2 linked regions of the Homo sapiens genome follow. The protein of the gene in region 1 interacts with the protein of each later gene in a pairwise test. Each region holds a gene or a part of one and is shown in the gene's direction. Other genes may lie near its edges. The genes, in order: UPK1B and SLC16A2.

Region 1 (3,822 bases):
TGTAAAATGTAAGTTGTAAGTTATCAATACCTTCAGCTGTCATTTGGGGATTTCTTAGTAAATGTAAGATATGGTACACTTTCCGTATCTTCTTTCTCTATAAAATTTCAGTTGCTACATTGATGGCTCTAGTAGGGACCACGAAAGAGAATTTTGTATCTCTCATCTGCTGACAGGACAATTGCTGTGGCGTAAATGGTCCATCAGACTGGCAAAAATACACATCTGCCTTCCGGACTGAGAATAATGATGCTGACTATCCCTGGCCTCGTCAATGCTGTGTTATGAACAATCTTAAAGAACCTCTCAACCTGGAGGCTTGTAAACTAGGCGTGCCTGGTTTTTATCACAATCAGGTGAGTCCTCTCTCCTCCCAAGACTTCCCAGGAGGTTCTGCTGCTCTTTATGAGAAAAATATTGGTCAACTGTAGGAAATAGTCTTTCAGTAAGGAATTCTACATTCTTTTCCCTAAACCTCATGTTAACTATTTCCTTCTCTGTTAATAAACTGCAAATGCTAAACCAGGACTGATAGGGGCAAATTTACATTTTAATAAAATTAACAAAACATGAGAATTGCAATAGCAGAACCCAACTTTGTTTAAATGAAGACAATTTGCACAATGTATGGAATTGGTATGTCAAGAAATATTTACATTAAACAAAGTTTTGCTCTAGTTTTGCAAAATGTAAATTGGAAGGGATGATGTGCAAAAAGAATGTTTTGCCAATTCCAAAGCAATGACTATTGCTGAGGATAAATGTAGTAATTACACATCCACATTCCTTATTCAATGGTAAAGTAGGACAGTCTTAATAAACATTAGGTTGGTGATTTGGATGGAAGGTAGTTTACATACAGATAGTTTTTGAAAAAGTTTCCAGGCTGATGAGGATAATGTGATTACGATCATGAAAACTAACATTTATTGTGTACTTACTAAATGCCAAACACTGTTTCCAGTGCCACACATACACTATCTCCTTTAATGCTCAGTAGTAGGTGCCAGTAGGATCCCTGTTTTACAAACGAAGAACTTAGACGTAGAGATACTAATAAATACCTTGCTGAGGTCACACAACTAGTAAATGTCCGTCTTTTCAAAAAACTCTCTGGCTTTTGAAACATGAGTTTTCTGCCTTCAAGCACAGACTCTAAGCCAGTGAAGACTTGTTAATATTCCCCAAAAGCCCTGATGAGAACCTCCAGGTACTTGTAGTCAGCATCTGCTGACCCTGTACACTGAAACGCTGTGCTCTGCTCAGGGAGTTACCTCTTTAAGGAAAGCTAGTTGTGTACCAGCTCATTAAATAATTGAGAAATGTCAGGCTGTTTTGTTTGGGAGCAGTACAAACTGCATGTTCAGATTGAGGGACATGGCACTGTTGCTGACAGGGTGCCTGGACTAGAACTGGATGCATTATTCCAGAAAAGGGCATGGGAGTGTTCTAGATTATTTTGCAGCAGTGTCCAGAGCAACCCTCATTGAGCTTTACTGCAACATTGTCTGGCATTGTTTTAATCAATTATATTCAGACTGTTATTAAAAATTAAATTTGCTGCTTATAATCAAGGTGTACAATATAATTATTCTCAGGACTATAAAAGGCTTTTGATATTTCAACACTGGAACTGCTCATGCAAACAAATCTTGATTGGATTGTAATTGTGTACAAACTGTATTACCTCTTTGAAAGGGATAAAAATAGGACATTTGTCTTCAGATAACCAGTTTATTTCATAGTTATACCTTTTTTCCTAGCACATATAATATTTTAGTTATGAGGACAAACCTGAAGCTTTTCTCAAGTTTAGATAGATGAGAAATTGAGGAAAAGATACAAATGAACTATTTTCCTCTACCTTGGGACCTCCACACCCATTTTGACAATGCTTCTAACACGTTCCCTTACAGTTCCCTGGCCTCATCTGTTCTAACAATTCCACCTCCACTACCCTACAGTTCCCTGGCTTTATCTGTTCTAACAACTCCACCTCCACTACCTACCAACTACAAATTCATCATCACTCAGCCCTACTCCTCCACCAAATTCCTGAATTCTGAAATTCCTCTCTCTGTTCCTGACTTCCTGTGCTCCTTGTTTCTCAACCTCACTCATTCTGCTCCTTTGACATAATCTCTTATCTATTAGTCCTTTCTGATTCTCCCTAGCCCAGCCTCCCAGATTCCCACACACCACCATTCTCCCTGACTCATAGGTCTTGCTAAGTCCCCTCTTGCCATCCTTTTCCACCAAGAAAAAGGTGCTACCCCAAGACCTGGTATACTTTATTTCTATTATTGCATTCACTACCTGGAACTATATTTGTTCCCAAGTCTATTTTTTCTGAGTCTCCTTGAGGACTATGTATTATTTGATTCTACAGATTTGATATTTTTAGTACTTAGCATAATGCCTGGCACAAAGCAAGCACCGACGTTTGATAGATGGGTGAATAAAGAAGTGAATAGTGAATGGTTTTTCTTTTTCTTTTTTTTTTTTTTTTTTTGAGATGGAGCCTGTCTCACTCTGTCGCCAGGCTGGAGTGCAGTGGCGCTATCTCGGCTCACTGCAACCTCCACCTCCCAGGTTCAAGTGATTCTCCTGCCTCAGCCTCCCAAGTAGCTGGGACTACAGGTGCACGCAACCACACCCAGCTAATTTTTGTATTTTTAGTAGAGATGGGGTTTCACCATGTTGGCCAGGATGGTCTCGATCTCTTGACCTTGTGATCCACCCACCTCAGCCTCCCAAAGTGCTGGGATTAAAGGAGTGAGCCACCGTGCCCAGCCTGGTTTTTGTTTTGTTTTGTTTGAGAGACAGGGTCTCACTCTGTCACCCAAGCTGGAGTGCCATGCTGCAATCACAGCTTATTGCAGCCTCAAGCTCCTGGGCTCGAGTGATCCTCCTTTCCACCTCAGCCTCCCAACTAACTACAGGCATGTACCACCAGGCCTGGCTAATTTTATTTTTTGTAGAGATGAGGTCTCACTGTGTTGCCCAGGCTTCACTTTTTGACAACCATATTGTAGGTTTTCAGGATCTACAATGCACAAATGTGCTGCTATAGCTGTGAAGACTAACAAAATTAGGGAAGTCACTATAAGCTTGTTAATAGTAGAAATTAACTAGAATTTCACACAGCATGTCAGATGCAAATATATATATATTCTATGTTATGGTTTATGTGACTCAGAAATGCTATGTGCAAATTGTGATCACTATACCTCAAAAATGTTATAATAAAATGAAGGAAGATCAAGTAAAGTACCACTAAATTGACTAGCATCACGAAAAGGCACTAAATGATGGTGAAAAAAATGGGGCTTCTGTCTGTGAGCTTCATGAAGGCAAGGCCCATTTCTGTTTGCCACAGCTAAATGCCCAGCCAGTACTTGGCACCTGGCATAAGTGGGCCCTTATATATATATTATTAGATGAACGACCACCTCCCAGGATTGTTGGGAGGACCAAGGAGTAGCAGATATGGGAGTGTTTTGTGAACCATCAAGTGTGTTGCAAATTATACTATTGTAAACATTAATGTTCCATTCATTCTGTAAATGTTTATTACGTGTCTACTATGTGCCAAGCACTTGTTCTAGGTTCTAGAAATTCAACAGTGAACAACATAAAATCCCTGCCCTCATGGAGCTTGCATTCTAGCATGGGAGACAGAAAATAAACATGTTACCAAACAAATACATGATAAAATTCCAGGCCCAAATAGGCCATGAGCAGAAATAAGGCAGGGTGAGTATATAGAGTAGGATGGAGAAAGGGTCTTTTTCTCTGTCACTGTCAGGAAAGGCTTTGTTG
Region 2 (3,822 bases), on another chromosome or scaffold:
ACATGTGTAATTGTGTAATCTCTGTTCAATTCTTTTGCCCATATTTTAAGTTAGATTGTTTGCTTTATTATTGAGTTATGAGAGTCAACTCACTCTTGTATGGTGGATACCGGTCTATTGTCAGATTTTGTGTGCTGCAAAATTTTTCTGTCTATGGCTTGCCTTTTCATTTTCATAACTATTTTTGAAAAGCAGAAGTTTTCAAGTTTGATCAAGTCTAATATATCAAATCTTTTCTTTTATGGATCATACGATTTGTGAATATCTGCAAAATCTTTGCCTAACCAAAGGCCAGGAAGATTTGTCTCCTATATGTTCTTCTAGAAGTTTTATAGTTTTAAGTTTTACATTAAGTCTATGATCCATTTTGCATTGATTTTTAAACATGATGTGATTATTGATATTTACAAAGTTCTCTTCTTATACATATAATTTTATCTGATTTTTTTTTTTTCTTTAGATGGAGTCTCACTCTGTCACCCAGCCTGGAGCGCAGTGGTGAGATCTCGGCTCACTGCAAGCTCCGCCTCTTGGGTTCAAGCGATTCTCCTGCCTCAGCCTCGCTAGTAGCTGGAACTACAGGCGCCCGCCCCCACACCCAGCTAATTTTTTGTATTTTGAGTAGAGACGGGGTTTCACTGTGTTAGCCAGGATGGTCTCTATCTCCTGACCTCGTGATCTGCCTGCCCTGGCCTCCCAAAGTGCTGGGATTACAGGCGTGAGCCACCACGCCTGGCCCTGATCATCAGCGGATCACAAGGTCAGGAGATCGAGACCATCCTGGCTAACACAGTGAAACCCCGTCTCTACTAAAAACACACAAAAAAATTAGCCGGGCGTGGTGGCAGGCACCTGTAGTCCCAGCTACTCAGGAGGCTGAGGCAGGAGAATGGTGTGAACCCAGGAGGCGGAGCTTGCAGTGAGGCAAGATCGGGCCATTGCATTCCAGCCTGGGTGACAAAGCAAGACTGTGTCTCAAAAAAAAAAAAAAACAAAAAAAAAACGAAAGAAAGAAAAAGAAAAAGAAATGTTTGAGGCAGGCACAAGCAGAAATTTTAATCTCCATTTCACAGATGAGAAAACTGAGGATTAGAGAAATGCTGTGTGACTTCTCAAGATCTCACAGCTGATAGGAGATGAAATGGCAAGGTAAGAGGTGAAATTGTGATAAAAAGTTAAGGTCTCCTGCTGTCCCAGGCTAGTACTTTTGAAGCCAGGCAGAGAGGGCTCAGGGTAAGGCTCCAACAAAGTAAAGATTCCCAATGGGGAGCTGAGCAACCTATTTGGCACTGAGGTAAGAGACACAGCCAGTTGACTAGCCCCAGACTGAGCTCCTTTGGCCCATTGGGGCTCCACAATTGGAGAGAGCCAGAAGTTGGCCCAGTGCCTAGCTCATGTGTCACTCTTTGATGATGATGATGAAGAGCTGGAAGTGTTCAAAGGAGAGTTCTGAAATTAATTTCAGAGTTAGAAATTAAAGCTAAGAGGAAAAGTTAAGGAAACGAAGATTATTTGGCGGAGAAAAGAGAGGCTCAAGATGAAACTTGATAACAGCCTTCAGACGAAATAAAAAAAAAAGCTTGAACTTTCCTTCTGAGGGCTGAGCAAAGGGAAACAGTCTGGAAGAATCTAAATAAAAGGGCAAGTTCCTTCCTCCTTAGTGAGGATTGTTATAGACACTTAAGAGCCTTTAGAAACAGGATAATATCTGCTTGAGTTTGAAGTCAGGAATTTGCCAAACATGGGCTCTGATGACGGATTTCAGCATGAGGGTTACATGACTCTTGCACAGTGTCCTTAGAAATCTTTAGGTGGCCTATGAACTTGCCTTGTATCCTAGTACAATTCCAGGGGGCTTTTGTCTGTGGCCTTCTCTACTCCTTAGTCTTATCGTCTTCACAGGGTTCTTCTAATGCTGGAGACAAGCCTGACCTTAGCTCCTGAAAGCTTAACCCCAATGTTTTTTGCCCCTGAAGCCAGTGGCTTAGAACCTAAGGCTATAGATCTGGCTTAGCATCCCTGGAAAGGCCTGAAATATTGACTAGTCCAAATCTTACCGCAGTGATAGAATCCCCTGTTTTATATCTAGTCTCTTCTTGCAAAACTCTCTGAACATCAGGGACTAGCAAGCTGGCAATGCAGACCAATGCAATGCCCCCTGTGAAAGGCCAGAGAAGAAGAGCTGAGATACCAGCAGTACCACCAGGCACTACACTAAGCTAAAGTGTCTTTGCACTTGTTTTCTCTGCAGCATGGGTCGGAGCCCTCGCGATGGGTATGATCTTCTTCTGTTCTCCCATTGTGAGTATATTCACTGACCGTTTGGGCTGCCGAATCACAGCAACCGCGGGGGCTGCCGTTGCTTTCATTGGCCTCCATACCAGCTCCTTCACCAGGTAAGGCTAAGAGTTGGTGGTTATTTCCCCAAGGCTGAGGGTTGGTTTTTTTCTGGGCTTTAGCTAGGGTTACTTTTCTCACTGCAGAATCCCCTGTGGCCATGGCCCTGTAGGGCCCTCAAAGATCCTGCACCCTGGATTCAGAATCCAGTGAATTCATCTGGGTAGGGTCCCCAGGACACATTGGTAGGGAATATCCCCAGAGAGGACCTAAGAGTTCCAAAGTGGTAGGAGTACTCTAAGCCTGGTAGTTCGTAGAGCTGGGCCCAAGTCCGGTTTTGGCCACTGAATGGCAATGGAACAATTGATGAGTACCATTGTTCTCTCTGTGCCTCAATTTCTATATCTGTAACATGAGGGGATTTGACCATATGGTCTTTTTACATCTCTTTCAACTCTGCTATTTGATTCCCCTTCAGTGTGCCACACATCTCACAACCTCACTTTCCATCCCAAGATTGAGCTTCTCGAGTGAGCCCATGTGAACACCTAGCACAGGATTCCCAAAGGAATCTTATGCTGAAAAAAGAGGTCAACTGAGCCCAAGGATGTTTAGCATTTCTGACTCTTTTCCAGATAGCTCAGGCTGCTGACATATGGATGATTTGGGACAGATAATGATTTACATCATGGGCATCAGAAGGATGATTAGCAATATCCCTTACTGAGATACAAACCCAGAACCCAGCTACCCAGCTAGGCCTGGGCTAAACTGAAACCCTAGTCCCACTGGTTCCACTGGCAGAACTTGGCAGTATCAGGTGAGAAGCAGGCTCTAGGTTCATTTTCTGCTTTCTTTTCTGCCAGCCCTGCAGAAGAATGTGTGTAGGGTAAGGGAGAATAAATACCCTAACCACAGCCTGAGGAATATGGAATTCCTAAAGAACTCTGTTGACTTTCTGCCAAAGACACTTTGGAAGTTATGGTACCTCCTACTTCCAATCTGCTTGGGCCGATGTAGGGGAATGCCAGCCTGGAAACACAGAAATGAGAAATGGCCGTGGTGACATGTCTGGGATGAGGTCAGAGCTAATTTGTCAGAGACTTGCTTTCTGAGCTTAGTTACCCAGAAAAGCGTCATGGCTCTCTAGGCCTAAGGTTCCACTCACAGTAGAGAATGATAATTGTGTTTTGCCTTAACTGGGCCCTGTGAGGTAAGCCAGCTTTCTTTATGACTTGAGCATTTCCAGCTGCCCAGCCTACCCTACAGCAGAGCTTGGATTTGGCCTGCAGTCATTTCTTGGCTTCGTCCTGTCCAACTGGGACAGAGAAGGGAAAAACCGTGTCCTGCCTGGAAACTACTCAGCACTCCCAGGGCAGCAGCTCCAAACCTTTTCAGAACCCCTCTGGTGGTCAGCCTCATTCACCCCCAGCAAGCTGGTGCCTGGCTCCTTGTGGGGAGGAGCTAGGCTTCAAAAGCAGCTCC

The links.
Region 2: the proteins of UPK1B (region 1) and SLC16A2 interact in a two-hybrid assay, tested with the Homo sapiens proteins (one large-scale study listed by BioGRID).

The regions. Positions count from the first base shown.
Region 1 is NC_000003.12:119,194,043-119,197,864, forward strand, and holds part of UPK1B (uroplakin-1b), read left to right. Parts: intron 1-176; coding exon 177-356; intron 357-3,822. UniProt on the Homo sapiens protein: Component of the asymmetric unit membrane (AUM); a highly specialized biomembrane elaborated by terminally differentiated urothelial cells.
Region 2 is NC_000023.11:74,518,739-74,522,560, forward strand, and holds part of SLC16A2 (monocarboxylate transporter 8), read left to right. Parts: intron 1-2,251; coding exon 2,252-2,396; intron 2,397-3,822. UniProt on the Homo sapiens protein: Specific thyroid hormone transmembrane transporter, that mediates both uptake and efflux of thyroid hormones across the cell membrane independently of pH or a Na(+) gradient.